7 linked regions of the Homo sapiens genome follow. The protein of the gene in region 3 interacts with the protein of the main gene of each other region in a biochemical or structural test. Each region holds a gene or a part of one and is shown on either strand. Other genes may lie near its edges.

The links.
Region 1: the proteins of PDZD2 (region 3) and PDLIM4 interact in a test that uses a peptide from one of them, tested with the Homo sapiens proteins (one large-scale study listed by IntAct).
Region 2: the proteins of PDZD2 (region 3) and ADRA1D interact in a test that uses a peptide from one of them, tested with the Homo sapiens proteins (one large-scale study listed by IntAct).
Region 4: the proteins of PDZD2 (region 3) and TRMT13 interact in a test that uses a peptide from one of them, tested with the Homo sapiens proteins (one large-scale study listed by IntAct).
Region 5: the proteins of PDZD2 (region 3) and TMEM215 interact in a test that uses a peptide from one of them, tested with the Homo sapiens proteins (one large-scale study listed by IntAct).
Region 6: the proteins of PDZD2 (region 3) and CBY2 interact in a test that uses a peptide from one of them, tested with the Homo sapiens proteins (one large-scale study listed by IntAct).
Region 7: the proteins of PDZD2 (region 3) and CGN interact in a test that uses a peptide from one of them, tested with the Homo sapiens proteins (one large-scale study listed by IntAct).

What each region holds. Positions count from the first base shown.
Region 1 is NC_000005.10:132,267,485-132,271,368, reverse strand, and holds part of PDLIM4 (PDZ and LIM domain protein 4), read right to left. Parts: intron 455-3,884; coding exon 276-454; intron 67-275; coding exon 1-66.
Region 2 is NC_000020.11:4,238,915-4,243,169, forward strand, and holds part of ADRA1D (alpha-1D adrenergic receptor), read right to left. Parts: intron 1-4,255. UniProt on the Homo sapiens protein: This alpha-adrenergic receptor mediates its effect through the influx of extracellular calcium.
Region 3 is NC_000005.10:31,645,231-31,649,485, reverse strand, and holds part of PDZD2 (PDZ domain-containing protein 2), read right to left. Parts: intron 1-4,255.
Region 4 is NC_000001.11:100,139,244-100,143,498, reverse strand, and holds part of TRMT13 (tRNA:m(4)X modification enzyme TRM13 homolog), read right to left. Parts: intron 3,851-4,255; coding exon 3,788-3,850; intron 3,318-3,787; coding exon 3,248-3,317; intron 3,092-3,247; coding exon 2,985-3,091; intron 2,648-2,984; coding exon 2,480-2,647; intron 363-2,479; coding exon 290-362; exon of another isoform or gene 285-289; intron 1-284. UniProt on the Homo sapiens protein: tRNA methylase which 2'-O-methylates cytidine(4) in tRNA(Pro) and tRNA(Gly)(GCC), and adenosine(4) in tRNA(His).
Region 5 is NC_000009.12:32,786,373-32,789,937, reverse strand, and holds the end of TMEM215 (transmembrane protein 215), read right to left. Parts: 3' UTR 737-3,565; downstream 1-736.
Region 6 is NC_000013.11:45,708,363-45,712,617, reverse strand, and holds part of CBY2 (protein chibby homolog 2), read right to left. Parts: intron 1-4,255.
Region 7 is NC_000001.11:151,531,685-151,535,939, reverse strand, and holds part of CGN (cingulin), read right to left. Parts: intron 3,539-4,255; coding exon 3,368-3,538; intron 1,966-3,367; coding exon 1,804-1,965; intron 899-1,803; coding exon 809-898; intron 341-808; coding exon 257-340; intron 161-256; coding exon 42-160; intron 1-41. UniProt on the Homo sapiens protein: Probably plays a role in the formation and regulation of the tight junction (TJ) paracellular permeability barrier.

The sequences.
Region 1 (3,884 bases), about 100 Mb from region 3:
TACACCTCGGAGCCCAGGTCGACTCTGCAGTCCCGGCTCCGCGGGAGGCCTCTGGCTGGGTCAGCGCTGGGAGGGAGAAAGAAATAGAGGAGGAAGGGATGCAGTTCCAGCCTTCACCCTGTGGACTTGGGGTCTGGTAAGGCTTATGAGTCAGAATGCAACCAGCTAAGACCCAAGGATCAAGTGTCAGGGGTCAGAGTGGGACTGGGTGAGATTTGAGGGATCAAGGGTTAAGATGGGTTCTGGGCATGGCACCGAAGGCATCTCTGTGCTACCTGGGGGGTGGAGACACATGCAGGGTGCTCATCTGGGCTGGCAGGGTGGCCTCGCTGCTGCCATTGTGAGGGACTGGAAAGCGAGGGGGTTGTCCATATGGAGATCCCAGGCTTGGTCTGCCATCTTCTGGCCCAGTCCCGGTGCCTGAGGGCCGCCTGCTGGTTGTTGGGCTGCCGTCCTATTAGAGAGAGGCCTAAGGCACTGGGAGACCCTCTGGCCTCCAGCCATTCCTTGTTCACCCCACCCCCACCCTGCTGTGCTGTGCCAGGTGGTGGATGTCAGTTGGCTTCCTCTGCTTCGGCATCTCTGGCCTGTGGTGCTCAGCCAGGGAAGGGATTTCTGGGGAAGGGCTGGGCCTGGGGACTGGTTATGCCCCTGCAGAAATGAGAAACGTCCTTGGAAAGTCAGACACAAAAACCTGGGCAGCTGAGACTCAGCCTGGGCTTGTGAGCCCTGCAGTGGTTCTGCCCACCACCACTCAGGAAGGGACAGTACTGGGGCAGGCCTATCCCAAGAAGCCTAAGGTCTGTGTGGCTACAGCAGAGTATGTGGCCTCCTGGCAGAGGTGGCCCTGGTGCCAAGCCTTCTCACCTTCCTGAACTGTGGTGGGTACTGGGTAGGCCCATGGCTGGGAACTCAAAAAACGTAACTCCTGTCCTACAGTCAGAAAGGGTCCTTGACTGTCATGTGTCCAAGGCCCTTTGGGCAGGCTGAGGCTCAAGAGTGCCATTGTGAGGTCAGCCCCTTCTGGGCCTACACCTGTCCCCCATTTCCTGCTTTCCAGGCCACAATGAGTAGCCTTCTGCAGGCACAGCAGATGAGGGGCAGAGACCAGGCTAGGGCTCAAGGCTCTCTGCCCCACTACCCCACAGCCAGCCTGGTGCCCATGGCTGAAACATTTTGGGTGGGAGTGTCCTGAACCTGCCCCCTCAGCCATGAGGAGAGGGCAGTATCTCTGTGTGTGGGGGTCTGAGTGGGGACTGGGGATCTTTGTCCCTGCAGAGTCCAGAGCTGTGCAGTTCCCAGCTTGCAAGTGCACACAAGCACCCCACAGCAATGTAAACAGGGGCATGCACACTCTCACAATTATGCTTTAAAGACACACACACACACATAAGGACAACACATATGCACCTACCAATCTCCCTACATACAACTAACTACATGCGCATGGTTACAGAGACTTGGAGCCAGCACTGGTCACCCTGGGAATGGCCATAGTGGCCTCCATAGCTGAGACTGGGCTAGTAGCCAGAGCAGCCTGATTTTAGGATGATGTCTGAGGCCAGGCCATGGGGTAGGTCTTAGCCTCAGCCTGGGAGTGACGTGTAAACCTCCTCTGCTCTACAGTGTGGTCAGAGAGCCCAGTGTGGACAGGAAAGGATGCCTATCGTAGTGGGAAGAACCCTGGTTTGGACTTAGGAAGCTCTGAGGCATAGTTGAGCCTGTGGGGTTCTGCCCTGAGTACCCCCTGCTTTTTGTAGGGTGGGAACCTGGGGAACAGGCAGACCAGCAGTTGGGTGGGCCCCCCTCCATTTCCCCCACCCCAACAGACAAACAGGAGGGTCTTGCTGCCCAGGTGGCCCCCATCAATGCAGCAGCAACAGGAAAACCCCTATCCACATCAGGCCCAACAAAAGCCCCTGAGAAACGTGAGCGCTCTCACACGTGTGTCTGTCGGGCAAGCATGCAGGCAGGGCTGACCTCTAATGGGGACCAGATGGGCTGTGGCCAGTGGGGGTGGGGCTCAGCCTCCGGGCAGAGGCTTTGGTGGGAGGGAGGAGTTGGAGGGACTGGGACTGGGAGGAAGGAGGCCCTCACTCACCCCTACCCAGCAGGGTGCAGGGGTCCACTGCAGGGCCATCAGAGCCACTGCCCCTCCCACGGTCACCCATGCAGCTGCCTCTCTAGGCCTGAACTCTGTGGCTAGGACACACATGGCTACCTCAGTTTTAGTTTGAGTCCCAGGGTTATCCCCTAACTGGGCAAGTCTCTTCACCTCTCTGAACCTGTTTCTTTATCTATGAGCTGGGGAATGTGATGCTTTCCACATCAGGTTCCTTGTGGAGATGAAATAAGACAATTGCATAGTGCCTGGCATAAAGCACATACTTGTTGGATGAATGGCTGTCAGGGGAATTCCTGGGCCCCCAGTCCTGTATTTTCCCCCTCTGTGGGTGGTACACCTCGTACCATATGCTCCTCTGCTCTGAGAACCAGCCTGCTGCCCACTTGGTTGTTGAAGCCTCAGTGGATTTTTCAGCAGGATGGGGGTAACTACCTGCTTTGGGACACTCAACTTGGATGGAGGCAGGCGCTGAGTCCAGATGAGCAGGTGCCATCTCCTAGAGGCTCAGTTCTAGCTCTCTGCTGGTCTGGGGAGGACAGGCTGAGTGTGCAAGGACTGCCTGCTCCACCTGACTTGCTTCTCCCCATCACCTGGTTCTGAGCATAATTGCCACTCCTTCCAGAAAACCCTACTAACCCAGAAGGATAGTAATAAGTTACTATCCTTCCTCCACCCTGGGCTAGGCCAAGTGCCTCCTGTGTTCCCACAAGAGGCCTGAGAGAAGGAGGTTCTCCTATCGCCCCACAGGGAAGGTGGGCCTGAAGTTCCAGCTGGCCCTGTCCCATCCCACTCGGGGATGTGTGCCAGGGCACCTTGTGCTGGTCCTAGGGCCAACTGTGGTTTCCTCCTCCTCGATGGCTCCAGCTAGCTCCACCCCCTCCCCAACACCCCCACTCAGGCAGAGGGTGGGAGCAGCATGGGGACAATGGGCCCTGTGTCTGTGTTAGCAAGGACTCAGCCCTGCAGGGGTGGGGTGGGGGTGTTTTTGTCACCACCCATGGAGCCCATGACCTTTTAAGTACAAAAGTGGGGCAGCAGCTGAGGGGCTGCCCTGGTGCTTGTGGAAACTCCCTCCTTCTCCAGTCTGAGCCACTGGCAGCCTGGTCTTCAAGGGAGTCAATGAGAACAAGTGTGGGGGCAGGGGGAGCTGCTCTACAGTCGCCAGCCTCCCAGGCCCACCGGCCCTGAGCCTCTCCTGGAAGACTGAACCCCCTCCCCACCACGTCATCCTGGCACTGCTACCTCTGAGGGAGGCTGGGCCTCATGCATGAGCTTGAGGCCCACACCCTGCTGCTCCCCTCTGCCTGGCCTGTGGCAAACCTGGCTCATTTGTCTATGGCAACATGTACCCCTACCCCTAAGGTCTGGGGTCCATGGGGCCATCAGAGCAAGTTTCTGAGACACAGATGTGGCCATGAATCCCTGTAAGAACAGCTGAGGTCCAGGATAGAGAAGCCCAAGAGCCTTTCTGTGGCCCTGCTCCACCACCTCATCTCTCACCTCTGTCCTCTCACTCCTTCCATCTTGTCCTCCCTTCCCCTGGACCTTTCTTTTCTCTGAACTTGTGGTGCAAGACCTCACCTCTGGGCCACACTTCCTCTCCCTATACCCCTTTGCCTGCCTTACCATTCCTAGCCCTTCAGGTCTTGGCTTCAATACCCCTTCCTCCAGGAAGCACTCCTTGACTCCTTGTCTGAGTCATGTGACTACTCTGGGCTCCTTTGGCCCCTGGCTTCCCCTAGCCCAGAACTTCTAAGTG
Region 2 (4,255 bases), on a different chromosome or scaffold from region 3:
TAAGGAAGGGATGTGTAATCGACTGGGAGACAAGGTGAGGGCAGGGAGGTGAAGGCTTGGTCAAGGCTGGGGTTGATGAGCAGGTGTAATGGGAACCAAGCAGGGAGGACAGGAGCAGATGGACTCAGGAGGAAGAGCTTCACTGAGGATTCTGGGGGAGGGAGAGTAAAATGGGCACATGGACCAGGGCATAGGCCTTGGAGGAGGGGAGGAGGGGAAGGTCATTGTAGTCTCAAGGCCAGAGTGTCATCATGGGTCAGCCTCAGTACAGTGGAGTCACACTGATGACCAGGGTAGGGGTGGGAGTGAGGAAAAAACAGTGTGATTCTGATGCCCAGATCTTTAATGAATGGAGCAGGGTGATCAACAGTTCCTCAGATGTTTGGGACAAACATATCAGCAGGAGCTGGGCAGAGGACAAGATCTTCAGGGGAGGGGAAGGAGGAATATATGTCCAAGGACAGAAGTCCCCATCAGTGTTGTGTTTTTCTTCTACTGAAAATAAAATGTACTTCCTAGATCTGTCCATTGAATCAGTGACCAACTCAGTATCAATGAACAGCTCAGTCATCTTCCATTGAAACAGACTAGGGCTCTTTAGGGAAATGGCTAATTCCAGGTCTAGGGCAGAAAAAATGCAAGCTGAGCCTGAAGCATCTTATCAGATCAGAAAGCAAAGAAGAGCTCAAGATGCTCCAGGTTCTGCCAAAGATCTCAGAAGCCAACTGGAAGGAGTACCCACTGGCCAAGCCCAAAACAATGATGTCTGTGATGTGTTGGAACAGCAAGGATGTCTAAAAATAATGACATTACCATGGTACTCAAACAGCCTCAGTGGTCACGTCTGGAAAGAATGCTAGAGAACTGACTCTTCCTCTGATAAATAAAGAGGAATATTGAACATCTTCCCTGCCTTTGCTGTACAGATTCTATTTAACCAAACAGCTAGTGGTGAAATCATTTTAGAATGCTAGTGAATAAATGAAGGAGGTATGATAGGATTAGAATATCCCCACTTCAAGCCCCAGTGATATAATGGGTCCAGGCCATGGTCAATGGCTGCCAAAACCAGCAGGTGAAAGGCCGATGGGTCACTTTGTAATGGACAGAGCAGGCTGACAGCACATGAATTCTGGTCAATCTTGACACCACAGAAAAGAAGAATTCTTTCCAGGCCAAATCTGCACCCAGGAAGTACAGGGAACAGAGGGACACATTAAATGGCACTGTGGAGATGCAAACTCCAAACTACAGGATACACCTGGGGACAATCTGGTGTCTTCACTAAATAAATGGAAAGAAAAAAAAGCAGTGGAGGCTTACCGAGTAAAGAAACCTAATAGGCAAATCGACCATATGCAACGTGTGCTCCTTCTGTGGATTCTGCTTCAAACAAACCAACCAAAAATTTACGAGGCAGCCAGCAACATTTCAACACTAAGTAGATATTTGATGATATTAAATGATTTTATGTGTTATAATGGATTGTGGGCTTTTTTTTTTTTTTTTTACAGTTATTATCTTCTAGAACTATATATTGAAGGATTTACAGATGAAGGGATACTGTATCTGGATGTTCTTCAAAATAATCTACAGTGGCCGGGTGCAGTGGTTCATGCCTGTAATCCCAGCACTTTGGGAGGCCGAGGTGGGTGGATCACCTGAGGTCAGGAGTTTGATATCAGCCTGACCAACATGGTGAAACCCCGTCTCTACTAAAAATACAAAAATTAGCTGGGCATGGTGGTGCACACCTATAATCCCAGCTTCTTGGGAGGTTGAGGCACGAGAATCACTTGAACCCGGGAGGTGGAGGTTGCGGTAAGCTGAGATTGCGCCACTGCACTCCAGACTGGGAGACAGAGAGACTCCATCTCAAAAAACAAACAAACAAAAATCCAAAAGAATCTACAGTGATGGGACAGTGGGTGAGGATGGAAAGAATCTAGGTTAGCTTTGGGGTGAAGCTGGGTCACAGGTACACAGGGGTTCATTATACTAACAGGGTTCTCTCTATCAATGTATGTGTTTGAAACTTTCCATGTTAAAAACATGAAAAAAACCCAACCCTAGCTCATTGCTTATTCATAGTAATTACTCAATAAATATTAACTGTCCTGTTAAAGATTTTTTTTTTAGGCCACAAAAATGGGGACTCACCCCCAACCCACAACAAGTAAAGAGAGTTGACTTTAAATAGAGGGCTGTTATGCTAAGCGAAATAAGCCAGTCACAGAAGGAGAAATACTGCATGATTCCACTTACATGGGGGTCTCTAAAATACTCAAATGCGTAGACTCAAAGAGTGGGATGGTGGTTTCCAGGGAGAAAGGGCGCTAGGAAATTGGGAATTGCTAATCAATGGGCATAAAGTTTCAGTTTGGCAAGATAGATGAGTTCTAGGGGTCTGATGTGCAACAGTATCACATGATATGTATCCATAGTTAATGATATGTAGTTAATGATATGATATTTACACTTAAAAGTGTGTTAAGAGGGTAGAGCTCATGCTATATGCTCTTGCCACAATAAAAGAAAATTAAAATAATAAATAAATGGAGGGCTGTGCTTTGCCACCCAGACCCTTGGTGTGGCAGGATGGGAATAGAACATGGGTTCTACCGTTTCCTTCTTCTGCACACATTTACTGAGCACCTATTATGTTCCAGGTGCCACAAAGCACAGGTAGGAGATGTAATGCCAGCCCTTTCTTCAGGCTTTTGGGCCGGGAGACAATGATGCCATTACTGAAGACCTAGCACAAAGCATCCCTTGCCTCTCCCCTTCATCCACAGACCCCTGCACAACCTCAGGCAGCCTGTGGAGATGAGTCCTTTAGCACCTGGCCGACTCTCAGACATATGCATAATCCACTCTCCGCACGGGGCCACCAAAGTATGCCTTCCAGCCTGGACACCAATTACTAAGCAGGGCTCACAGCCTCCCCCCTGCCTCCTCCTGCCTTCTCTCTCACTGTAACAAAGGCATAACATGTAGACAGTCAAATTTAGAAAGCGTGTGTATCTGAAGCACACAGCACAGCCTGATGGCTCTGCATATGCATGCACCAATGTCATCACTACCCAGGTCAAGGTATGGAACTGTCCCAGCCCTTCAGAAAGTTTTCTAGCATTCTCTTCCAGTTAGTACACTCACTGCACACACACAGATGGGTAACCGCTATCCTGGATTTTATCACCATTGATAAGTTTCCCCTGTTTTTGAACTTCATCTACACAGAATCAAAAGGTGTGTACACCTTGAGTTTCAGACCTGGCTTATTTTGCGCAGTATAACATCCATGAAATTCATCCATGTGTGCATCAGTAGTTTGCTATTTTTCCTTGTACCGTGGTCCAGTCTATGGATACATGGTTTATTTATCCATTCTCCTGCAGATGGCATCTGGCCTCATCTCTTGACCCCTCTTCTCATAGGCTACACGTTTTACGTCTCCCAAACCACAGAGCAACCCAGCAATACTGCTACTCCTGTGCCTACGTGTGTGTAGTTCCCTTTGCCCTCACACTTCATGATGCATATCTGAATATTGACAGTTACAGTGCATCGTGATAAAAGTACATGCAGAGTGTTTCAGAAGCACATGGGACATCTAAGTCTGGGGGTGGTCAGCGACACAGGCACTATCACAGAGCACAGACTCACAAGATAGGAGAGAGGCTCAGGTGTGGCTCACAGATGGCTGGAGTGGGACATTGGCTGGGCTGTCCTGGGACTTCTGATATCAGAGCCTCTGCCCAGCTTGTATGCCTTGAGGTGCATTTGAGGGGGGCCCTGGGCTCTGAGTCTCCGGGCTGCTTTGAGTGGATGGCATTTGGAAGGTGGAGGTCAGTGATGCTCGGTGATCTGCCCAACAAGAGAGAGCTGGGATCGAAAGCCTGGGAGCTGTGAGTGGTCACTAGGAGTGACAGGGGTGGGGCTGTTGTGTGTGTGTGTGTGTTTGTGTGTGTATGTAGGTCTCGGCAGACAGTCCACCTCTGGGCGTGGCTGGGGGACACTTACCAGGCAGCCCAAACCCAAACGCAGTGAGATGCTGCCGCCATGAAAACACGCAGGAGGGACACGGGCCTCTGGAGGCTCCCGGGAGAGGAGGAAGCTTCTCTGCAGTTGGGTGCTTGCCTGGGGCAGGGTTTCCCCAGCCCCTCCGGTACCCCTCACACCCGCAGGGAGGATGATCTGCATTCTACACAATTGGCCTAGACCTCTAGGGTCAGGGGATTCTTGCACGAAGCTT
Region 3 (4,255 bases):
CAGGAGTCATGTGATAGAGTACCTGGGGGTGGTCCTGTTTCCTGTTAGATCATATGTTCTTGTGAAGATCTGGGGGAAGATGTTTCCAAGCAGAAAAAGAGCTCTGATATGGGACGGAACTTGGTGTGTTCCAAAACTGAAAGAAGTACAGCATGTCAGGCATGGAGTGAGGGCAATGAGTGCTAAGAGAAGGAGTCATAGGAGAGGTGGACTGGGGCAAGGAGCCTGAATCACACTGAAATGGCAACGAGAAATGTCCAGTTTTAAGCCAGGGAGTGATACGACTTGTGTTTTTAAACGACCCCTCTGGCCGGGCACAGTGGCTCATGTCTGTAATCCCAGAACTCTGGGAGGCCAAAGCGGGTGGACCGCTTGGGCCCAGGAGTTTGAGACCAGCCTGCACGACACAGTGAGACCCCATCTCTTAAAAAAACAAACAAAAAAACCCCTCTGGGTTGGGGGGCAGGAGGGATGAATAGGAGTCAGAGCACAGAAGATTTTTAGGCCAGTGAAACTACTCATATAATATAATGGTGGATACATGACATTACACATTATCCAAACCCATGACATTATACATTTATCCAAACCCATAGAATGTAAGAGTGAACCCCTAAGGTAAACTATGGACTCGAGGGATAACGATGTTCCAACACAGGTTCATCGACTGTAACAAATGAACTATGTGGTGAAGGATGTTGATGAGAGTGGAGGCTCTGCATGTGTAGGGGCAAGAGGTATACAGGAAATCTCTGTAATTTCTTCTCAATTTGGCTGTGAACCTAAAATTGCTATATTAAAAAAAAAAAAGTCTTAAAAAAATAAAAGACCCCTCTGGCTGCTCGGAGGAAAAGGACTGGGGTCAAGGGTGTCCTCAGGTGGCCCGGTTAGAAGATGACTGCAGCATGGGTCCAGGGGTGAGATGGCAGTGATTTTAACAAGGGCGGCTGCTGTGGAGGCGGGAGAACAAGGTGGAGGCTGGAGGTGGGGCCAACAGGACTTATTCCTGGATTTGGATACAGAGTGTCGGGAAAAGAGAATGAAGAGTGGTTTCTAGTTTTGGGAATGAGCCTTTGGGTGGATGGTGGTGCCATTTACTGAGACGGGAGGAGGAGAAGGAAAGAACTAGCTTGAAAGAGACATATCAAGGATTGCATTTTGTTGTGTTAGGTTAGAGATCCCTATAACGCCCCCACTGGAATGGTAAGGGGGCAGTGGGGCACATGAGTCTGGAACACAGCAGAGAAATCAAGGCTATGGACATAAATTTGGAAGGCAGAAGTGCATAAATGGTAGGCAATGCCTCGAGATAGTTGAGCTCTCCCTAGAATAGCCAAAAAAGAGGATCCAAGGACGAGTCCCAGGTCAAGAGCATAAAACAATGAATATCAGTTGTTGTTACTATTTTCAGTACATTGAGAAGGAGAATGTTGGCCAACTACTGTTACCAGCATCTTTTCATCCATCTATTTCCCCAGCCATGCTGCCCTCCATTCATACCGTGAACAATCACGGAGCACATTTACTAAAAGGCAAAAGAGAGTAGTGGTCCATATGCAAGCTCTAGAGCCAGGCTGCTGTGTGTAAATTCCAATTCTACCAACTCCTGGCTGTGCAACCTCAGAGAATTCCGTAACCACAATGTATCACCATTTTTCCATCACAAAAGGGGTTGTACTGTGTTGAATAGTAGCTCCCCAAAAGATATACCCACATCCCAAAACCTGCAAATGTGTCCTCATTTGGCAAAAGTGTCTCTGCAGATGTAATTAAATTAAAAATCTCAAGTTGGAATCATCCTGAATTATTTGGGTAGCCCTAACTCCAATGACAAATGTCCTTATAAATGAGACACACAAAGTAGAGACATGCAGACAAGAGAGAAGACACAGACACACAGACAAAGCAACGTGAAGACAAAGGCATAGACTGGGCTGAAGCAGTGCAAGGAATGTCCACAGCTCCCAGAAGCTGCAAGAGGCAGGGAAGGATTCTCCCCTAGAGCTTCCAGAAGGAGCACGGCCCTGTCAACACCTTGATTTCAGACTTCGGACCTGTGAAGAGGATACTGTGAGAGGATAAATTTCAGTTGTTTTAAGACAACAAGTTTGTGCTAATTTCTGACGGCAGCCCCAGGAAATGAATATGGGGTAATAACAGTATGTACCTCATCAGATTATGAGAACTGAATGAGCTGTATGTGGCAAGTGTCTAGAACAGTGCCTGCCAAATAGTGAACATTCAAATAATTTTAATTTTTACCCATGTACTAGGCATTGTACTGGATCCTGAAGAGTACAGGGGAAGAGGCAGTCTTCAGAGATCCTCAAGATAAAGACGGAGCCTGGGAAGCTGAGCAGGTGAGGGATCAGAAGGCGGGAAGTGTGCTCAGGGGCCGTGTGCATCTCCCAGGTGCCAAAAATAGTGGACTGCAGCTCCACAGCTGCCACCAATAAAGAAATCAATAAGCCTGACATCTGCTTAGGTTTTTAAAGATGAGCAGTAAGTCCAGAGAGGAGTTAATGCAATTCTTTCCAGTACCTTCCTCTCCTTGTGCCATCTCACTGCCTGCTCTCTCTTGGGAATCCACGCTGATGGGGACACTCGGAGCACATTTTCTGGAGACAGCTGTCCCTTCTTTCGGCCTAATGATACTGGGAATTAAGGTGGCCAGGGCGGGGTAGGAGTGGAGAGTGGGCAGTGGCAAACTGTGGAGGAAAGCTATGCCAATTTTGTATGCTGAGTGGTTTTGTAATAATATTTGCATGGCTGCTTTAGCCTTGGAAGTGAATTCTCTTCATCAGGAGACCCATATAGCACAATCTAGTTTTACCCAAATCTCCATAAAACACACTGTGCCAGAAAGAGGGTGTTGGGCGGGTGGTGGGGGGTGTTCAACTGAAAACACAGCTGAAATCAGACATTTTATAAGTGTCCATTGGCCAACACACAAAAATGTAGAGTTTATTGACATCTTGCTTTATTAAACAGAAAAAGAAAAAGAAACCTTCGTGCTCTTGGAGAGAGTGTATGATTCCATTTGATCACCTGCAAGCAAACATAAGCAGTGTCAGGAGCTACTTAGTGTTCATGACGTGGAGGGGTCAGGTTCCTGAAGACATTTGTGGTGGCTCAGTCCCTGGAATTCCTCAGGGGTAAGGGGCATTACTAGGTGTTCAAACTTGTACCCACCAACCCAAGATATTATGGCTACCCCAAAATACACTTGCCTCTCCAGTCTCCAGAAACAGAGTCTTCTGGAATACTGGAATTACAGTAACATCCCAGGACGTGTAAACAGGACAAGCCAGGTTCACCTTAGACAGGCATCGGAAACATGCTGGCCTTTGGTGAAAGGGACAAAAGAGTTGGTGTTTATTTTCTTCCGCCTAGGTATCCTGAGATCTCCCTAGGAGTGACAGTAGTGAGAAGGCCCCCCCGCAGTGCAAAGCTCCCTGACACCCTCTCTCCTCCCACCAGCTGCCTGGGGATGCCCGGAGGCCTCCCATGTAAGGCAGCCCAGTTCCCCACCCCCTTCCCCCTACTGAGTACACTGAGATCCAAACTTACCATCTCTCCCACCCTCCTCCCAGTACAACTCCCACTGCCTGAGCTGGCAGGTCCCAGCCAGGGAATTGACTTTGGGGTAGCCACAGCACAAAGCGTGCCCCTGCTCACGGTAGGAATACTAATTCTACACTATATGAGTGCTGCCTTTATTTTTAGCCAAGCAGGATGATGGCTGTCCTGAGGCCAGGACAACAGGGTCTGTTGTGTTAACTTGGATGATAAAGTCTAGGGCTTGTAAAGCCAAGTACTAGAGGTGTCCAAGTGTTGGTAAAAATGAGACCAGCCGGGCACAGCGGCTCACGCCTGTAATCTCAGCACCTCGGGAGGCCAAGGCAGGCGGATCACAAGATCAAGAGATCAAGACCATCCTGGCCAACATGGTGAAACCACGTCTCTACTAAAAATACAAAAATTAGCTGGGTGTGGTGGCACGCACCTGTAGTCCCAGCTACTCAGGAGGCTGAGGGAGGAGAATCACTTGAACCTGGGAGGCAGAGGTTGCAGTGAGCCAAGATCGCGCCACTGCACTCCAGGCAGGGCGACAGAGCAAGACTCCGTCTCAAAAAAAAAAAAAAAAAAAAAGAGACCAAGAGTAACCCCTCTGAAATCCATTTCGACTCCTGCTAAAACACCTCAAAGAACCAGTCTGGGGCATCACTGTGTTAAGGGCCAAATATGCCATGGA
Region 4 (4,255 bases), on a different chromosome or scaffold from region 3:
TTAATTTAAACAGGACAAAGAAACAACAGAAGTACATATTATAAAACTTTTAAACTCTTCCCTAATATAACACTTCATTTCCACTTGATACTGAAAATTTTTAAAATTCTCAACCTTAATTCAATTTACATCTATTTAAAAACATTATATAAAACATTCTATATTAACAATGAATTGATTTGACTGTTTTCCCTGAAGCACAGTTCTGCATGATTGGATTTCTAAGCAACCTCAGAGTTTAAAACAGTTATGATTTATTTGTAGACCAATGGAAAGTTACACAACTTACTCAAACACAAGTGTTGAATATCAATTTGAAGTCTTTCAAACACTGAATTTTTCTTTCTGTGTTTTCCATCCACCTGCACAAACAGAACATTATTGTAATAATCACTTCTTACATTTAAAAAAGCTTTATGAAAATAAAAAGATTTTTATTGGTTTTCAAAATTCAGAGCAACAGAACATATTTAAAAATTAAGATTGTACATTCTTTGATGAGAACTTCAAAATATCACACTTTTTAAAAAAGATTTGAAAATGTTTATCAATTATTACATAGACATTATTTCCTTTAACCCTAAAAATTCCCAATTCACTGACAAAGGAACTGAAGTTCACAGATCTTAAGTGATTTATCTAAGATTGTCTACTAGCTCCTTTATCTTTGTCACTCCTGGTGTACTATTTTTGGTTCGCTCCTCTTCTTGCTCTCCTGAAAGATCACAACCATTCTAATCTATACCTATGTGCCCACGACCGGCTGATCTACATTTGTGGCTCAGGCCTCTCCAATGGGCATCAGACACATACTCAATTGTGAACTAGAAAGCTCTACTTCACCAGCAAACTGGACACATTCAGAACTGAACTCATTATTTCTGTCTCCAAAACCATCCTTCCTCTTGTGCCTCCTTCATTCCTTATCTCAGGAAAGAACACCACTTAGTCACCTAAGCCATAAAAATCCTACCGAGAATTACTCCTTATCTCTCATATTCAATTACTAACAAATCACCAACTCTTGTGGCTTCCAACATCTTAATATTTCTCATACTCTTGCCCTCCTCTCCATCCCAATGCAATAGCTTTAGCTCTGGCCTCTTTCTTACTTGGATTGTTGGACAAAAATTATCTTTATTATTAATCTCTCTAAGTATCAGACTCTTCTAATATAGTTTTAATGGTGCTGCTAGGATAAACTTTGAAAAATTTCCTTCTACTTTACCAACTCTTACATATTATTTCAATCTCATCTCAACTGTCACTTCTGCAAAAACTTCTATGACCCACACTAGACTGAGGTTGGTGCTCTATCTTCATGCTCCCATAGGATTGGGTACTTACCACTATCAAAACACACTTAGCATACTGAACACAAATATTTATATGTCTACTCCACTAGACGTAAGCTTCCTCAAAGCCAAGAACTAAATCTTTTTTCTATTGTATCCCCACCAGACAGCAGCATAGTCAAACTCCTTCCTTAGCATAAAATATGAGACCTTCTATAGGCTAGCCATCCTCTCCAGTCCCATCATTGCTGAACTCTACTTTGCACCATGTACTCCCATTATACAGGAATGTTTCCATATTTTCCTGTTATTTCAGGTATTTGGTTACACTGTTCTTGCTTCCTAGAATGCTTCTCAAACTCTCTAACAAACACCAATTCACCTTTCAAGATTTAGTTCAAGCATCACCTTTTCTACATAGTCATTCTCCATCTCTTCCCTGCAATAGAACTTGTCACTCCCTTCTTTGAAACCATGCTGTACTCTGTGCAGACCTTTCTCGTATTTTAACACTTCACTACAATCATTTATGTATTTGCCTGGGTCTCTTTTCTAAATATAAGTAATAAAGTGGCTGGGCACAGTGGCTCACACTTGTAATTCCAGCACTTTGGAAGGGTAAGGTGGGAGGATGGCTTAAGCTCAGGAGTTCGACACCAGCCTGGGCGACAAAGTGAGACCCTGTCTCCACAAAAAATTTTAAAAAATTACCTGGGCATGGTGGCGTGGGACTATAGTCCCAGCTACTCATGAGGCTGAAATGGGAGGATTATATGAGCCCAGGAGGTCAAGGCTGCAGTGAGCCACGATCCTGCCACTGTACTTCAGCCTGGGTGGGGCCTGGCAGTATGCTCAAAAATTGTTTAATGAATGAAGGGCAAGTGGCAAAGATAGGAGTAGAGCCCAAGACTTTTAACTCCTAGCTTGAGCTTGGCTCTTTCTATATATTTTCCTGTCTCTGCAAATAATTTTAAGAATTCAGATCAATGGACTATCAAAACTTAGATTAAAAAATTCACCTTCAGTTTGAGTTATCAATACAATTAGAACTAATAAAAAGCTACAACAAACAGATAAAGAAAATTCCTTTCCTTTCTTTTAAGAAATGTTTCTATCACTTTTTTCCTGAATACAAAAAATGAAAACAAGTTTGGTTACTAACACAGAGCAATGGTTTCACTTACCTTGAATCTTGTGGTCACCTTTTCCACTAGGATGAAGTGAACTTTTTCAGCATCTTTTAAGGCAATATCAACCCAATGAGATAATTTTCCCTTTCCCGCTCCAAACTCAACAAAGCATCTTCTTGGACCAAGTAACTTTAAATTTTCAATGTTACCTAAAATAGAAGCCTGCAAACTTCACAAGATTATTTTATAAACTAGAGTAAACACATTTGGTTCAAATGGGAAAACAGCAAGGTAATTTCTGCATAAGGCAGTATGCTTACATTGATAATTTGTATTTGACTTAAAATTTTTCTCTCTTGCCTTTAAATATTTAATATACGGTACTCAGAATCACATCCATGCCCTCAATTTTTTGTATATGTTTCTATATATTTTTGAAATGGAAATATTTGGTACCCTCAAAGGTAAACAAAATAAAATCTTATTAATAATTACATTTAAAACAGTTTTAACAAATGAACAAAGGCCATGTTTAGTAGTTACTATAGCCTAAACATACCTGCTGTTTCAGGTGCTTGGTTGCAGAATCGCCATTTTTAGGGTCATTAAGTGCATCGTGTAATGCTGGATGGGACATAATATGATCTTTAAGTGTAGAATTCAAGCCTGTGCCAAATATAAGCACAACAGCTTAAGCAGCCAAACATGTAATTGTAGGATTCTGAACAATAGTAGTAACATATTTTAAACCAGAATGGTATCAACTCATATACCACCTAATTACTCTAAAATAATTGAACTTGCAACTTTAGGCAGTCTTACCTTCACTTGCTTTTCTCAATTTCTTAATTAACTTTTCCAACTGCTCTTCAGATAGAGAAGAAATTGGAACCTATATACAAAAATAAAACTAAATAATGTAGCCAAAAATTGCTTTAAAGTAGCATAACAGAGACTGAGTAGAGGTTTACCAACTGGGCAAATCCCATGACAGCTTAGGCTCTTCTCTCTATCAAGCCTTTTCCCTAAGCTGCCATCAGAATTGTCCAACTGCTAAATTTCTACTCCGTCTTTGCTGTGCTACTTTAATTTTCCTAACTTCCTCAAGGTCAAGAACAAGTCTAGGCTCAGAAGGGTTCAAGAATCAAAGGGGATTCAGGGCCATATTGTAGCTTCTTTTGTTATGGGGCATGAGCTGGTCTGGGTCTAGGAACTAACCATCACTAACAATATTAAGTCTACAGGAAAATGCATTCTAAATTAAAAACAGACTTGAGACAAAAATTAGAACATGCCTTATTCACATCATGAAGAGAGCTTATAAATATCTTTTAAAATTAAATATTAAGTCAATGTACTTACTAATTGTTCAGGTATTTCTGTTTCATCTCTTAAGCCTGCATTAATATCTTGAATATAGAAATCCTTAACAAAAACAAAACCATAAAAGAACTGTTAATAATGTGTAGCTCACAAAAATTAAACTAAAATACTGATTCTTCCCTTTATCCCCTGCTCTGTACCTGCCATCCTCCCTTCCTCCATTCATTTCTTCATGAAATCACTATTGAATATTTACTCTAGGCCCTAGTTTGCTTTAGGTATTGGGCACTCCACCACAGTAGATAACAAAAGTGACAAAAATATGTGTTCGTGGATCTTATATTCTAGTGAGGTGATTATCTGAATAAGCACTTACAGTTTAAAGAAATTCATTTGTAACACTTATTAAAAGTTCTACAGCCTAGACTGTTGACAGCATACACTGAGAACTGTAATAATTTTGTCTTATAGTGCTAAAGTAAAAACAGCAAAGTACTAACTACACAA
Region 5 (3,565 bases), on a different chromosome or scaffold from region 3:
TGTAATCCCAGCTACTGGGGAGACTGAGGCAGAAGAATCGTTTGAAACCTAGGAGATGGAGGTTGCAGTGAGCCAAGATCATGCCACTGCACTCCAGCCTGGATGACAGAACAAGGCCCTGTCTCAAAAAAAGAAAGAAAGAAAGAAAGAAAATAATTGCCCATACTTTTCATGTTCAGATACAGGCAGGTGATTTTCAAAAGCCTAGTTTTTTCAAACAAATGTGGTCTGGCCTCCTACTGAAGAGTTGTCTTATGTACAATAGTTCATTACCATGAAAAATAAGAAAGTGACTAATTGCAAAATTATCTTTTATGTTCAACTTTCTAAAGATAGATTTGTCAAAGAGCAGCACAGGAGATTTTTAATAGCTTTATGTACTGTTTTGTAATCGGTTCATTTTGTAACTCTGTACCTTATTAGGGATAAAGCATGCAAAGCTTTGTACTATCACCGAGAATACCAAGTCTGCAGGCTGTAATCTGGGGTCAGGGAAGGAATAAAGGGAAAAATAAAAAAAGAATCCCTAGTAAGGGTCAGTCCCAGGAACAACTTGCCAAAGACTGGCTATCTAACATCAGTGCCTGCCTGTTTGTGTATCTGGGCAGCATCATGTACACATTTCTTTTGGTTGGGTGCCCATAGAGTGAGGACCCTGCGGTAGGTCATGAGAAATCAAAGTCATGGTCTCAGACTCAGTGGTGTCTACATGATTTTATGTGAACTGGACAAGAGGTTGAATGGAATCTAGTCTTTTATTAAGATATTTGGGCAAACCAAGCATTTGTCCCCATTTCCATCCTCAGTTTAGTTTTTCCCAGTAGGAAACTGAAACACAGAAAACTCAAGGGCAGAGTCTATCAGATTCCTGAAATTCCAGTTCATTTGTAAGTCACTGATAGGCGACAATACATATACATATGAAATACATCTATTATAAAATATATGATGAGGTACTTTAAGAAAATGCTTTTGGCATATTACAAAGTCATTATTATTGTTTACATCTATTTATCATTTTGCTTGTTGAACACGATGCTCTTGAAGACTGACACCACTGTAATCTAATTGTGAGAAACACACCACTGGTATCTTAGCTGGGGAAATGTTCCATCTTACTCCTAAACATACTAGTTCTGGTCCTGATGGGAGGATCTTTTGGAAGAAGCATCGTTTTGTTTCCCACCCTGGGTCTTATATCCACAAGAGTGAAGGGAAGACCCACACAACAATATGGAGAGTTCCATTCATTTACACATTTCTGCCTCCTCTCTCTCATCCACAAGGAGATACCTGTTCAATAGTAAAGTTCCTCTCTATTGGCATATAACAAATAATATAGCAGTGTAACCAGCAATAGGAAAAAAACATACAAAATCATCCATAAAACTTAGTATCTTGCCAGCAATAAGGAATGGCATGATAAATTATGGAACATCACTAAAATGGCATATTACACAATCGTTCATTGATAATTAGAAATACTACATAGAAACATGGAAACATGCATGGAATATAATTCAAAGAGAAAAGAAAAACACACTATTATAATATGTATGCTGCATTTGCATGTGGAGGAAGCCTGGAAGATGATATACCAAAATAGAAACACAGTAGTTGCTTTAGGATAGTGAGGTTGTGGGTTTTCAGAAACCTTTTCTTTACTGTGATAAAATACTAGTATTAATAACAGTGAATTCACCAAATAAATGATGTTATGGGTACAGAGGGAGGCTATTAATAAATAAGTAGAGCTTGGACATTGCAAAAGAGAAAAAACATTTAACAGAATGAATCTTCCTTTCCTACATTTGTCATCTCAGTGGATATTAAGATCCATAGTATTGAAAACATTTTCAAAGCAGCTGCTTAGCAGGGTTTGGAAGAGAGCCTGAACTTAACTGTATCTGGATTTTGTTTGCCAAGATGACTGCAACAGAAAATAAATCTTAAAACAGATGTCTAATATGCTCTCGTTTGAGTATCATGTCTGAATTCTCACTTAAGAATCAAGAAGCAGTTTGGAAAAACAACCCATGTGCACAATAAGTAGGCATACAGAGCAAGAGAAATTCAGTAGAAAAATTTTGAAAATAAAATGCCTATTCAGAATCAAGTCGCAATGTCTACTTGGATTAACAGCAAAATAAAGTAATGTCTACTTAAATTTATATCTGTCTAGGAGCTCTTGAAGGCTACCAGGAACAATCCTCATGTCTATTATATTGATAAGAACAATTTGCTAAAACTGTGTAACTCATCAGAATGAGTTGCTCTCTTTTCCTCTAAAGGGCTGAGACACTTTTTTTCTCTTTCTCTTCTACCTCTGTTCAAAAAAATGTGGCTTTTCCCCTTTTTTTGTGTATATATATTTTTTGACTTTGGAAGTTTAACTCTGAATAGTACTTACAAGTATTGATTTGGGGCACCAGGTTACCTTGTTGCATATAGAAAGGAGTTGGTTAATATGTTAGGAGAAATTCACACACACAATCATACATTTTATTCTCACTGGTCAAAGTTAAAACCTCTCACACCAACATTTGCAAACCTTTATTTTAGCACAGGAAAATATTTCCTCAAATGCATACTTAAATACCTTAAGTATCTTAAGTAGGTAATGGGAGAAGAAACATGAAATAGGTTTTCTTCTGAAGTAGAACTTGAAAACAAGATAAAATACCTTATATCTCTAAACTAGTAGTTGACCCTCAATTTGGAAAGAGACAGAATGATATAAAGGAGTTTTAAATGGTTCCAAGAAATCAGAAAAGTAACTTTTCCAACCCCCAAACCATACCTGACACTGCAAGCATCTTCTTTCAGAAAATTGCAGCATTATTGTCTAAGATTTGCTGAGTCTCTGTGAACATCTCTCTGTCTCACTATCTCCTCATCTCTAACGGTGGCAAACTTCTTAAAGGAAGTTTTCATTCCTAAAGAGTTATTGCATAGTTCTCACCATTATAAAAATATGATTCTCTGTTTTCAAAATGCATTACAATTATTAAAAGTTACTGTGATTTTAGGAAACTATCTCTCCCCATCCCAAATCCAAATGTCAATCACATTTAGTGCAAGGTTGTGTATTAGATTACTTTGAGTTATACCAACATTTTAAGTTTTCTCCTCAAAAATATTTTACTCTGATTATGTTCATTTTATTCTCAGGAATGCATTGTGTTGAATAATCTGCTTTCATACATCTACAAAATTCTTTTTTGAGTAGTAGCTGTGCAATGTATGTCACATAATTATCATAAATTTCATAACTTTGGCATGCATTTTGCTGTAACTCATTTCCTGGCAATATATAAAATGCCTTTGACATAACACCATAGAATATTTACACTGAAAATGAATGATAGAAATAATCAAGTGTAAATCAGTTCCCCCTCCCTTCACAGAGTAGGAAACTCAGGTGTAAGAAGATAAAATTTGCCCAAGATCATGCATCTCATTTCTGATATTTAAGCCCTACTAAAATAATTACATATTTTTGATCTTGAACTTGACTTGAAAATTATGATTTTTTAAAAATACCATGATTCTTAAGACAGAACAA
Region 6 (4,255 bases), on a different chromosome or scaffold from region 3:
TATTTTCTAGCCTGAGAGCTGAAACAAGAAGGCTCCTTGGCTGGGGACTCAACTTCACACAACTCAAATTTTCACCTCTCCGTGCATGTCTGAGAATTACCATAAAAGTGCTACAAGTATTGATTTGGTGGATACACATTTTAGCAAGTAGGCAAATTCACAAATATGGAATCCGTGAATAATAAGAAACAGTTATATATTATGGTGGTCAAAGGCATTCATTTTAGAGTCAACCAAATATTTTGAGTCTTTGCCTCACTACTTACCAATTAACAAGAATTTGAGCAAGTTATTTGAGCTTTAATTTCCACATTTTCAAATTGGGATAATTGCATTTACTCCTTGCCTCATAGAGACATTTTTAGGATTAAAAAAGGCAATGTACAAAAGCACTAAGCATGGGCTCTGGCACATTCTGTCACCCTAAAGGAGGAACAAACACTGTTCTCAAGGGCCACCACCCACAGATGTGTACTCACACTTAGCATGAGCAGAGAAGCAGCATGAATCATCCAAACAGCCACCCAAATTGCTGTGTCCAAAATGGCGGTGCCGTTGGTCAGCCCAGCCTTCTCTCTTGCCCATCTGGGCATATCCTTCACTCTTAGCCACCCTTGAGTCTTTTCTGCTAGCAGCCCCTTAAACATTCACCCCAGCTTCTAATGCAATGCTAGACTCAAAGCAGAGTCTAACTAATAATTTTGGAAAGAAAGAAAACCCATCCCAGACATATCACTGAGCAATGAGCGTTCAACATGTGGTGATAAAGCCAGTCAAGGACCCTGAGGAATTCATGATGGTGGCCATAGACCTCAAGACCACAGCATAAAACGGGGCTCAGATCCACAGAGCTTAACTCCAATGAGCTGGTAGCTTTCACACATCCCAGTACAGAAAAATAACTCCAGTGAGTTTTAAATGCAGATTTCTGAGCCTCCCATTGTGAGTCTGATTTACTCAGACTGGGGTGTGGCCCAGGAATCTGCATTTCTAACCAGCTCCTTCAGGTGTTCCTGGCTGCAGGTGGTTAGGACAGATCTAAGTCAAGTAGAATAGGCAATTTGCTTAAGTGAGGGTTGCACCAGCATTACAGACTGAAAGGTCACAAGAATTCTCATCCTGATTTTGTCACTGATGGGCACTTTGAAACCAGACAGCTCTCTTATCCTCTTTGAGACCCAGACTTTTCACGAGTGAAAAAGAGGGAGTCGGGCTCCATGATCTTAAAGGCACCTTCCAACATTGAAAAGTCAATGAAATATACCTGTAAAATAGAAATAATATGTGCCCTGCTTAGTTCACAACACTGTTGTGAGGATTAAATGAGATAATGAATGCAAAAATATTTTTAAAACCAACAGTGCCAAAGAACCATAAGGTATTATTATCAAGAAGAGTAGATTTCACTAATGCAAGAATTATAAGATGTATTCAAAAAGAAGTGAGCAAGTAGAATGCACACTAGAGAAGAGGTGATGATTGCAGCCATGAATTTAAGTAAACAGATCATGATAGCTACTTCCAAATACACCAAAAGTACTTCATCCAAGTATATCAAAATGCTCTCCAGATATCAATTCCTTATGTCTTAGGTTACTTTCACAACCGTACAGATAGAGAAAATAAAAAACAAGTCAGGCTAACTACATTATATATATATGTGTGGGTGTATGTAGAGAGAGAAACACAATTTGCATGGTATATAAAGTTGGTTAGAATTCTTTAAAACTTAAAGAGCTAGATAAATAGAAGATGCAGTTCTATGCCATTAACTTTGCAATAAGCACATGTCATTAACTTTGTAAGGATACGCTCAATCTTCCAGATAGCAAGGGTATGAGGGCATTCTGCAAGCGGAATTTTATTTAGTTTAAAAAAGTTCAGCCTCCCTGGTTTTCACATTTCTCAACTGGGAAAGCAGATTGGCTCCTGTAGCTGTCTGTGATCAGAATGAACCTCACTGTGGATAACCTAGACCATTTTCTGATAGGTTTAAGGTCCTGAGATCCAGGATTTCTGGGAAGACTGGTCAAAGCCAAAGACGTGAATGTTTTGTTGTGGTGGTGGTTTTTGTTGTTGTTGTTGTTGTTGTTTTGAGACGGAGTCTCACTCTGTCGCCCAGGCTGGAGTGCAGTGGTACGATTTCGGCTCACTGCAACCTCCGCCTTCCGGGTTCAAGCAATTCTCCTGCCTCAGCCTCCAGAGTAGCTGGGACTACAGGCGCGTGCCACCACGCCTGGCTAATTTTTTGTATTTTAGTAGAGACGGGGTTTCATCATGTTGGCCAGGATGGTCTCGATCTCTTGACCTTGTGATCTGCCTGCCTCTGCCTCCCAAAGTGCTAGGATTATAGGCATGAGCCACCGTGCCTGGCAGGAGTGAATCTTAAGAGGTTCTCTCCATCCTTGCACTAGAACTAATACTTTATCTCAGCAGGATTTGACTCCAGAAGCTATCAACATGGAAAAATGTGGTTTTAGTCAACATGTGCATCCCAGTCCTGAGAAGAAAATGGAAGAAGGAAACAAATATTAAGCCTCAATTTCATGCTAGGCCGTGAGCTGAGCATTCTACCTACTAAATTCATTTTATCCTCACCACACTGACATGTAAGATATTATTACTATTCTTATTTTACAGATGGAGAAACTGAAACTCAGAGATGTTAAATAACCAGCACTAGCTCCTTCACTAAGACACAAACCCACTTCTGGCTCCCTGACCTTCTATGTGTGAAGTACACACATGGGAAACCACCATGGATTTATCAAAAGTCCTGCAGTACTTTGGGGAACATGATATCTTTTCCTTCAATTTATATGATGGAAAATTTCAAACATACACAAAAAGAGAGAGAATAGTCTAATAAATGTCCATGTACCCATCACTCAGCTTCACCAAGTATCAAATCAAGGCCACACTTGTTTCACCAGGCCTCAACCTGATTCCACAACCACTCCCCTACCGCTAGGTTATCTTAAAGCAAAGTGACATTGTGTCATCTTATCCACAAATATATAAATATGTGCCTCTTTAACAGAATCACAATACCATTATCACCCTTTAACATTTAACAATTATCCCTCAATATCTGCGAATACTGAGCCCATGTTCAAATTTCCCCAATTCTCATTTCTTTTTAACGATCGTTTTGTTTCAGCCAGAGAGACAATCTTCTTGATCCAACTAAGGGTCCAAAGAGGAATCATGGATGCTTTCTACCTGTCCATATTTGGCCATGATGGCTTTTAACCCATGGCATTCAGCTGCCTGTGTTCTACATCCACCTTCCACACTGGGTACCCAAGGAACATTCTGTCATCCCCTCAACAGAAATACACTAAACAAAACCTTAACATATGGTGGATCCCTAGCCACGGACAACCTGGGTGTTTGTGCCCTGGTCTTTATTCACACATTCAGGTGATCTTGCTCATATCCACTCACTTTCTGACCTTAGTTTCCACTTCTGTAAAATGAAGGGTAAGAGTCATTATCTCTAAGTGCTCTCTTGGCCTAACTGTCTCTGGTCCAGTGGATTTGCATTTGTAAATTGGCACCACTATGGCCCCAGCAGCCCTCTTTTACCAACCTAGTTGGCATCTCGTCCTCTCCCCTAAATGGCCAACTCTTCCCAAGCAGGCTTTGTGCCTTCTCTTGTTCCATGCCCACAGCACCTAATCCAGGAAATGCTGATGGACAAATAAGTCCCCTTTACTTTCTCAACAGGAAACCAAATTCTTCTCCAATGACTGAGTCCTATTATCTTTCCTCCTATCCTCAGACAGGACCAAGAAAGTGGTCAAGTGCAGTGTTTCCTCATGGCTTAATTTCTTAGAACATTTAAAAATTTTTCAGTAGTCATATACTTATTTTAATGAGTAATGGGAAAACATACCTATATTAAATATACAGGCATTTTTAGACATGACAAGGATCATGATTGAACTTCAGGAAAACATTGATCCAGAACAAACTTGTTTTTTCCTGTAGCATTTCTCTGATTCTGATCAGAGCTAGCTGGATTTAATCCTTAAAGGAAAGCTCTTGGCCTTGTGAAAATTCTTCACCCTAGTCATGTACCCACTCAGGATGTTATTGCACCAATTTTTCCCCTACATTAGTGTCAGTGAATCAACTAACATTAATTTGGCACGTACTGTGTTCCAAGCTCACAGACCCTGCCCTCAGGGAATTTCCAGTTGATTTGAAGAATCAGTGAATAGCACCAATTACTTCTTGATGCAAATGAGAG
Region 7 (4,255 bases), on a different chromosome or scaffold from region 3:
GAAAAGGAGGGAGGAAGGGAGGAAGGATAGGCTTATGTCACCTCTCTTCAGCCTGTAGCCGCTCCTGCAACAACTGATTCTGGGACTCAAGCTGAGAGAGGCTGGCACTAGGCTTCTGGAAGCCTTCTGAGCTGGCCAACCGGGTCTTCAGGTCCTTGTTCTGAGAGGGACAGGAAGCCTCCACAGTTAGCACTCCACTGGCCATTTTACTCACCTCCTGGGGTCCATCCCTAAGAATCCTCCCCTCCCCCATCACCTGTCTCTCCAAGGAGATTTTGTCACACTCCAGGTCCTGCCGAGCAGACCTTTCCTGCATGAGCTCTGTCCTCAGCTGATCCACCTAGTGGGGATGGGTGAGAGGACCAGACTTGGGGAGGGCTAAGGATGAACCAGCAAGCTGAACAAAGTGAGGCTGAGTCATGGGAGGATGGTCTCTGAACCCTGAATCCAAAAATTCCCAGGCAACTAAAAAATCACAGCCTATTCAAATGGGAGGGGCCAGAGAATGCAAACAGAGCCTCCTTCGTCCCTCCAGGAACTAGTATCCCTTGTAAACCAAAGAAGCCCCAATTCAGGTCAGAGAACAGCCCAGGCCACCAGGATCCCTTCCTCCATGCAAATCATTGGCTTCTTTCCACCCAAGGAAACTGGCCAACCTTTCCCAAAGCAGACAAAACCCTGAAGGAGACCCAGCCACGCACAGATTCGGCAGCCAGATGATGAAAGATGGGAGGGTAGAGTTGTTTTTGAGAGAACCAAGAGGTGATGCAGTCAGGGGTAAACAGAGATGAGGGGTGGGGGCGGTTACCTGGTCCCGGCCACGATTCACCCGATCTGTTAGCAGCTCCACGGTGTTCTTCTCCTCATCTAACTCTGTTTCCAGCCGTGAGACTTTTTCCTAGGACAGAAGAACAAGTAATTCTGTCCCAAATGCTGGACACCAGAATGCCAAACTCAGACCAGGAGCCTCTCAAACTCCAGCATTAACAGACTTTTCTCTCTTGCACATCCCAGTAACCTTTTGGTACTTGCCTGGACCCAGAGCCACTATGGAGCCAGCGCCCTCTACTGACCAGATGTGGCATCATGGGCAGGTCGGGGCCATGCTCTGGTGACGGCCCTTTGACAGAAAGGCAAACCCCAGAATCTACTCTTCATTGGAAAACCTTATTTCTCTAATGGGAAAAGAGAGAGAAACCCAAGTACCTGGGCCAAGGCTGAGGTGAAGAGACTCAGAAACTGAGGTACTGGAGGCAGTACCACGTAGAGGCTAAGAGTATGTACATGGGACCAGACTGTCCAGTCTGAAAATCAGATTTACCACTTCCTGGCAGTAGACCATGGACAAGTTCATCTCTCTGTGCCTCAGTTTCCTTCATCTGTAAAATGGAGAAAACAAGACTACCTACCCCACAGAGTTATTCTGAGGATTAAGTCTTAAGTGCCTATCACACAGCACAATATGTTTGCTGCTGCTATTATTATTATCAAATATAGCAAACTGAAGAATACTGTTCACTCTAAAGGGGAAACCCACTGCTCAGCTCCAGCCAACTGTTGCCATGCAGACTCAGGACAAGACACTCAGTATTACCATATCTGCCAAATACAAAAGAAACTAGAAATCCAAATTTTTAGGTGACCTCTATAAATTTCTAAACATTGGCAATTGATTCAAAGTTGTTGAAAATACTGCAGCCAAACAAAACTCATCAACTGTGGGCTGTCGGTTTTGACCGCTAGTACAGAAAGAGGCTTGGAAGTCCCACCCTTTTTCCACAGGTCACACCTCAGTGCCCTCACCTCGAGACCCTTCAGCTGCCGGGCCCTGTCGTCCTGGGAACGCTTCTTGTTCTCTGCCTCTTGCTCCAGCCCCTGCAGTCGCTGGGCCAGTAGCTCTTTGTCCAGCCGGGCTGTGTCCCGCTCAGCCTGGGATGCCTGCAGGGCCTGCCGCAGCCTCTGGATCTGGGCAGGGGGTAAAAATGCCACAGCTCAGTGTAGTGAGAAGGTGAGGGTTGAGGGGCAGGAGCAGTCCAGCCCAGTGGGCAGAAACATTTCATCACTGTCACTCTTTAGAATTACCAGTGGCATGATGACAATAAAAAGCAAACTGACTTTTCATCCATTTTCTTTTTTTTTCATTTTTTAGATGGAGTCTCGCTCTGTCGCCCAGGCTGGAGTACAGTGGTGCGATCTCAGCTTACAGCAATCTCCACCTCCCAGGTTCAAGTGATTCTCCTGCCTCGGCCTCCCGAGTAGCTGGGACTACAGGCATGTGCCACCACGCTTGGCTAATTTTTTGTATTTTTAGTAGAGACGGGGTTTCACCGTGTTAGCCAAGATGGTCTCAATCTCCTGACCTCGTGATCTGCCCGCCACAGCCTCCCAAAGTGCTGGGATTACAGGCAAGAGCCACTGCACCTGCCCTCATTAATTTCCTTTATTGTTTTTGTTTTTGTTTTTTGAGATGGAGTCTTGCTCTGTCGCCCAGGCTGGAATGCAGTGGCACAATCGCGGCTCACTGCAACCTCCACCTCCCAGGTTCAAGCAATTCTCCTGCCTCAGCCTCCTGAGTAGCTGGGACTACAGGCATGCACCACCACGCTCAGCTAATTTTTGTATTTTTAGTAAAGACAAGGTTTCACCATGTTGGCCAGGCTGGTCTTGAACACCTGACCTCATGATCTGCCCGCCTCAGCCTCCCAACGTGCTGGGATTACAGGCGTGAGCCACCGTCCTCAGCTTCTTTATTGTTTTTAAAGTCTCTACACAACTTGGAATCACCTGAGGAGTTTTTTTAAATTCTGATCCTGGATCCCATCCCCAGAGATGATGACTGAAGTGGTATGGGATACAGCCTGGGTGTGGGGATTTTTAAAAATCTCCTCAGGTGGCTCTAAGCTACAGAATTTGAAAATCACTGCTCTACAGACAATATATTCCTCCACCCTGCAAGTCATTAGACCTAAACCTGGGCCCCAGGGACCCTTGGCCACAGGTTCAGTTAAGAGGCAAGGACCGGGCTGGGCGCAGTGGCTCATGCCTGTTATCCTAGCATTTTGGGAGGCCGAGGAGGGCGGATCACGAGGTCAGGAGATTGAGACCATCCTGGCTAACACGGTGAAACCCCGTCTCTACTGAAAATATAAAAAATTAGCCAGGCGTGGTGGCAGGCACCTGTAGTCCCAGCTACTTGTGAGGCTGAGGCAGGAGAATGGTGTGAACCCCGGAGGCAGAGCTTGCAGTGAGCCAAGATCGCGCCACTGAACTCCAGCCTGGGCGACAGAGTGAGACTCTGTCTCGGACAAAAAAAAAAAAAAAAAAAAAGAGGCAAGGACCTTCAAACCCAAGGATATTAGACTTCTACCTCATCCTGAAGTCGGCTCAGTCCTCCAGAGGTCTTCTCAGCCTCACTGGCCCAATCCTTGGCCTGGCGCTGGGCATCTGCCACCTCCCGCCGGGCCTTTTCCTTATAATCCTCCAGCTGGGCCTGGAGCTGCTGCAGGGCTTGCTTAGAGTCCTCCCCGATCTTCTCCAACTGAAACACAGAGAAAAGGGTCTTCAGCACTGTACATAAATGACCCTCTCCAGGCCCAGACTCCCAAGACTCTCCCCTAAGGGTCTCCTTCCTGACAAGGCAGCCCTCTCTTGCTCTTTCCTGGGCCTAGGTTCCTAGTATAGCTAATAGTTATATACAGATGTCTGGGTTCAAATCCTGGCTCTACCACTTACTGGTGACCATGTGCAAGTTACTTATCTCTCTGGGTCTCAGTCCCCCATCTGTAAAATGGGATTAAAAATAGTAACTATATCACAAGGTGTTGTGAGAATTACATTAGTTAATTATGTGAAGTTCTGTACTTACAACAGTGCCTGATACAAAGTAAGCCTTAAATGACCATTTCAGCAAACCCAAGGTGCCAATGATTATACGGCGTACCACTAAGAAAAATATGCCAATTAAACTATAACATACCATAAGGTATAAGACACAACTCTATTTCAGAAATGATAAAATGTGCATTTTTCATTGACAAATGATAAGATGTGCATTTTTCATTGACAAATGATAAGATGTGCATTTTTCATTGACAAATGATAAGATGTGCATTTTTCATTGACAAATGATAAAATGTGCACTTTAGAATTGATGTAACATATTACGTGTTTGCTCTTGCTTTACAAAAAGATTGGGAGGAGAACCTTAGCAGCAAAAGCAATTTATTTCCTTTTCTTTTTTCTTTCTTTTCTCCTT